Regions from separate parts of the Homo sapiens genome. Here region 2 is linked to region 1. The links come from fine-mapping of genetic effects on gene expression. A gene starts in region 1. The other region holds a variant in brackets. All regions are shown on one strand. Distances are between the middles of the regions. Region 1 holds the start of IFIT3 (interferon induced protein with tetratricopeptide repeats 3). Region 2 has its middle 3.5 kb from the start of IFIT1B.

Region 1 (2,921 bases):
ATAAGAATTGGCTTAAAAAATGCTGTTTCCTGGGCCCCACCCTAGACTGATGGTCAGATACCTAATGTTGACAAAAAAAGTCAAACTCTGTAAAACATTTGAAGAGATTTATTCTAAGCCAAATATGAATGACCTATGGCCTGTGACACAGCCCTCAGGAGATCCTGAGAACATGTGCCAGGCCACAACTTGGTTTTATACATTTTAGGGAGACATAAGGCATCAATCAATACATGTAAGGTGTACATTGGCTAGGTCCAGAAAGGTGGGACAATTGGAAACAGGGAAGCGGGGCAGCTTCCAAGTCATAGGCAGATTCAAAGATTTTCTGATTGACAATTTGTTGAAAGAGTTATTATCAATAGAAAGGAATGTTTGGAGACATCCAATAGAAATTCAATAGACAATCATTAGAAAGGAATGTCTGGGTCGTGGAGACCAAGGTTTTATTATGCAGATGAAGCCTCCAAGTAGCAGGCTTCAGAGAGAATAGGTTGTAAATGTTTCTTAATACACTTAAAAAGAGCATGTTCTGGCTGGGTGCAGTGGCTCATGCCTGTAATCCCAGCACTTTGGGAGGCCAAGGTGGTTGGATCACCTGCTATCAGGAGTTCAAGACCAGCCTGACCAACATGGCGAAACCTCGTCTCTACTAAAAATACAAATATTAGCCGGGCATGGTGGTGGGTGCCTGTAATCCCAGCTACTCGGGAGGCTGAGGCAAGAGAATCACTTGAACCCAGGAGGCAGAGGTTGCAGTGAGACGCAATCATGCCACTGCATTCCAGCCTGGGCAACAGAGTAAGACTCTGTCTCAAAAAAAAACAAAAACAAAAACAAAAAAAGAGTGTGTTCTATTAGTAATTCCAAAAGGAAAAAGGATGTAATGAGGCATATCCAGCTTCCCCTTCACATCAGTTTTCAGGTTAACTTTGGAATGCCCTTGGCCAAAAGCAGGGGTCCAGTCACATGGTTGGTGAGTATGGCCTTAGAATTTAATTTTTTGGTTTACATTAGGAATGCTTCCACATTCTCTCAAACAAATTTTAGTCACAGTTTTGAATAACGTACTCTGGCTCAGCCATTGCAGGTCTCAAGCCGTTAGGTTTCATTTTCCTCCTCCCAACGATTTTAAATTAGTTTCACTTTCCAGTTTCCTCTTCCTTCCCCTAAAAGCAATTACTCAAAAACGGAGAAAACATCAGCTGATGCGTGCCCTACTCTCCCACCCCTTTATATAGTTCCTTCAGTATTTACTTGAGGCAGACAGGAAGACTTCTGAAGAACAAATCAGCCTGGTCACCAGCTTTTCGGAACAGCAGAGACACAGAGGGCAGTCATGAGGTCAGTGAAATAAGAATGCATAATCATGCTTGTTTTTGAGTGCAAATTGTAAGTTGAGTTTCTTACTGTGCAGGCACATTCCTGAATTGTCCTGATGTTTATAGATTCAATATGTCTTTATCAGTCTGAGCATTTGTAAGATGTTTGAGGGGTTTTTCCCTGTGGCTTTTTTTGGTGTACACACAGGCTTCTTAAGTTTCTGGAATGGTTCCCTACGGAACTACATGGGGGGAGGCAGGGTGGGGAATGCATCAGCTCATGTTTCCTCCCTGTGTGCAGCTATTTCCTGCAATGAGAGGAAGGCTTGGCAGGAGCGGTGTATTTCACTCAGCCACAAACTTGGCTGATTCAAGGGTAGACCTAAGGGAATTACTCTTTTGGGTTTTTCTGTTATTGTCATTTTGTTTGAAAAGATTAAGTCACAGGCTTTTTTTCTTGTAATTTTAAAAGGAGGAATTTATTTTCAACAGATATTGTGAAAGATACAATCAGTACTGCAAACCCACTCATGAAGAAGGCAATTTTGCCCTGAAACGTTGCATTACTTTAAGGTGGGAAGTGGAAGAAACAATTCTTACAAATGGGCATTTTTGTCATTTCTTATATAAAAACAAACCCAAAGCTTAGCATTTATTTTTATTGATGTAGTGAATGCTGGTCAGCAGCAAAAAAAGAATTTCTCCTCAAAAGTGTAATGACCTAATCTATTATCTAAAACTAGTCTAATCTCTAATGGTGGGAAGCAGATCAGTGGTTGCCTGGAGATGGTGGGGATTGAGTAGGAAGGCTCCCAAAAGAATCTTTTTAGAATCATAGGAATAGTCTATAGGGAGGTAGTGATGGTGGCTACATATGCATAAACATTTACCAAAACTCATCAGACTATACACTGAAAATGGGTGCATCTTATTGTATATAAAGCATAATCTCAGTAAACTTGATTTTTAAATTTATATATTGACCTCCTGGAGTTCTTCAGGGGATAGCATGTTAGGGAGAACTAAGAGAAAAGGATGCCTTTCCCACCAAGCATCTCTAGGAAAGGAGTGAGGAGGTGATTGCCAGGGAGGGAAGACCCCATCGACCATTCAGGGGGGCAGAAAAGGAAAACTGGATTCCCTACCTTACTCTGCCCCAAGGACTTGAAGATGCTCTGCAATGTCATGTTTGGGGATGAGATGGGTAAGAGGAATTCACTGCCAAATACCTCAGTATATAGAATACCCTTTTATATAGAATAAGTTCCTGGTCAAGAGTGATGTTAATTGTGTCTGTGTGAGTGGGATTGACCAGAGAGCAAGGCGTCTTAGTAGCCAGCTTGCAGGAAAGGTTTTACAGGGTCCTGTCTTTAGGTGTGTCTATAGCCACTGACCTGAGGAGGTCTGAGGGGGGCTCTCTGAACTATGCTGGACTCAGGTTCACATCAAGGTGCTCCTATTTCCAGAGGCTATAGGAACAGGAAGAGATTGGGCTGCTCCTCCCCAGTTGTGCTAAAAATTTCCAAATGGGAAAATCACCTGGAGAACTCACTGGCACGTGCCAGCTGATGGGCATCCTCCTCTGCCCCATCCACTGAG
Region 2 (2,921 bases), 46 kb after region 1:
AATCCCAGCACTTTGGGAGGCAGAGGCGGGCGGATCATGAGGTCAGGAGATCGAGACCATCCTGGCTAACACAGTGAAACCCCGTCTCTACTAAAAATACAAAAAACATTTGCCGGGCGTGGTGGTGGGTGCCTGTAATCCCAGCTACTCGGGAGGCTGAGGCAGGAGAATGGCGTGAACCCGGGAGGCAGAGCTTACAGTGAGCCAAGATTGCACCACTGCACTCCAGCCTGGGCGACAGAGCGAGACTCCCTCTCAAAAAAAAAAAAAAAAAAAAAAAACTGGAACACGTGGGAGTCAGCCAGAAAAGTAAATCAGAGTAGCCCAAAGATAGCCATCAAGACCCCTGAGGTGGTATGAAGATTACCAGGACTTTCAGAGCAGAGAAGTTCCTAGTAGCTGAGTATTTTCTCTGTGGACATGATTGGTGCAAGTTTGCAAACATGAGTAGTCTCAAAAGCAAACATCAGACACTCTCTGTAGAGGTCAGTGCACTTTGACCTACATCCTTTCTGGTATTGCATGGATTATTAAGGTGCACAAGGGGAAACCAAAGCATAGAAAAATAAAGTTCTAGACTCAGAGCCTCATAGAAAATAGGTATTTATTAGGAATTAGTCTCTGATCCAAAGCATTTGGACCTGAAAGGGATCCAGGGATCATTTGGAAAAGTATCTGTGAAACTTTAATGTACCAACAAATCATCTGGACATGTTAAAAGGCAAGTTCTCATTCAGGAGATCTGTAGAGGGGCCTGATATTCTGCATTTCTGGGCTTTTAGTAGTTGAGGATGCCACTGTAACAGACCATATCCTGAGTAGCAAAAATCTAGTCTAGTGGTTTTAAACCATGCACAAAAAAATCACTTTGGGATTACTTTTTTCAGAAAACTTACTGATAATACTCATGCCTGGGCTTCACTTCCAGAGATTCTGATTGATTGGGCTGGAGATTGGCTCAGGCATCTGCATTTTTAAAAGACTTCCAAGGAATTTTACAACCTTGCAGCCCAAGGTTGTAAACCACTGTTCAAGGCCAACCTTTTTCTATACCTGATGAGGAAACTCAGTGTTTAAGTGAAATCAAGTTCACTCTGCTAGTTCGTCGAACACAGAGCTGGTTCTGGAATGTTGATAGTGGTTAAGTTTTATTTCTCCAATGCTTAAGTTTCATTTCTACAAGTAGGCATCCTGCCCATTAGAAATGAGTTTCCCTCTCTAGTTTCCATTGTTTTTTTCCTATTTGTAGACACAGACACACACAC[A/ACT]CTCTCTCTCTCTCTCTCTTACACAATGTGTTGGCTGTTTCCTTATTGTTGCTCTGTCCTGTGTGGTTCATGGCTGTATTTATCCAAGGACACACTGGGCCAGATCCTGAATACCTAATCAGTTGAGCCAGAGCCTCACAGAACCAGGACTGCTGCCAAATTCAGTGACCACATGACAAACACTCACTCTGTTTCTCTGACACGCTGTTACTAGCAATAATTTTATGCATGAAAATTCCAAAGTCATACTACTCTCAGTGTAAGCAGCTCTCCTAATGTTCATTTCAGTATTTGCTTATGTTTCTATCCCTTTTAGAGTTGATTCAGGGCTAGTGCCTTACAGAAGATATTTGTATCTGAAAACACAATTGGCCTCCTAGAAGCTTCCCATCTGATACAGAACTGGAGAGAGAGAGCTGAGAGGAAATGAGTCCCATTCCAAAATCTCTTCTCCCCCTACACAGGTCCATCCTCACTAGGGAGAGGTTGAATGCCTGCTGCCCAAGAGGTACTGCTGGGCTCTATGTGTAGATATGGCCAGGGCTCCCTGACCTGAGCCTGAGATGGGAATATGTAGATTGCCCTGGCCTGAAGCTCAGAACAGGACACCCCTATCTCAGCAGCTGCACAGTCAGATATGACATGAAACACCTCTCTCTCAGTGCCCACTGGGAAAAATTGTAGTCTGGAAGGGCTCCAGCTAATGGTCAGCACAGACTGCACAGATAAGGGGACTTGTCCCACACTGTGAAAGCAACACTCACAATTACTGAATGCTGTTAAATGAGACATGCTTTCCATGCAATATCCCACTTCATCTCAACATAACCCCATGACGAAAGTCCTAGTGCTATTCCGATTCCATGGGTAAGTAAATGTGGCTTAGAAATGTGAACCAACTATCCCAAGATCACATGTCCAGTAAGCAGCAAAGTCCATTAATGACCCCAGGTAGTCTGATTCCAGGTGGCCTTCACTACTGAGCAACATCATCTTGTGCGCACAAAGACAAGTAAAGGTAAAGGGTTTTAATAGTTCTCATTATGCCCAAGCTGCAGAGCAAGAAAGGAAACCTCAGAAGAAAACATCCCATTGGCCCCAAATATAGAATAATGGTTGTTCTATGATGGGGTGCTATTGTCTTATACTCAGAGTACACAACCCCAAAATAAACAAGATGGCAAATATCTGTGCAGAACCCCCTCCATCAGGTGATTCTGTCACCTGACAGGTGTAGAAGGTTTTTTCTAATGGCCTTGGTTTGCTCAACCCCAGATGGAACAATGTTTGACTAACAATCATTCTTCCCTTTCAGCAAACTTGGTCTTCCACAGCAGGGCTACGTGGGCCTAGTTTCCTTTCCCTCATTCCCCTGAATGGTTCTAACCTCCATTTCTGTGCTGTCATTATGCTTAGAGAATTTTTCTGCCTACTTTTATTATTAGAGTATACTCAAGGAATAAAATGGGGATTCTCATTACTTAAGTAATGTTGAGATTTGGTGGGTTTATGGAAGAATACATGGATCTAAATGATATCCTGTGCTTGTAAGATGTCAAGACGGGCCAGGTGCAGTGGCTCACACCTGTAATCCCACACTTTAGGAGGCCAACACAGGTGCATCACCTGAGGTCAGGAGTTCGAAACCAGGATGGC

Evidence for each region.
Region 2: its variant is fine-mapped to the expression of IFIT3 in whole blood (INTERVAL, PIP 0.97).

The regions. Positions count from the first base shown.
Region 1 is chr10:89,326,735-89,329,655 of GRCh38, forward strand. IFIT3 (interferon induced protein with tetratricopeptide repeats 3) reads left to right here and starts at 1,263. Exons shown (of 2, transcript NM_001549.6): 1 at 1,263-1,344. The coding sequence starts at 1,340. It also overlaps a transcript of LIPA not described here. RefSeq lists an enhancer at 1,031-1,270 and a silencer at 1,591-1,640.
Region 2 is chr10:89,373,078-89,375,998 of GRCh38, forward strand. It overlaps a transcript of LIPA not described here. Among named protein-coding and RNA genes, the nearest start is that of IFIT1B, 3.5 kb to the right of the region's middle. The variant A/ACT (reference allele first, on the strand shown) is at 1,266.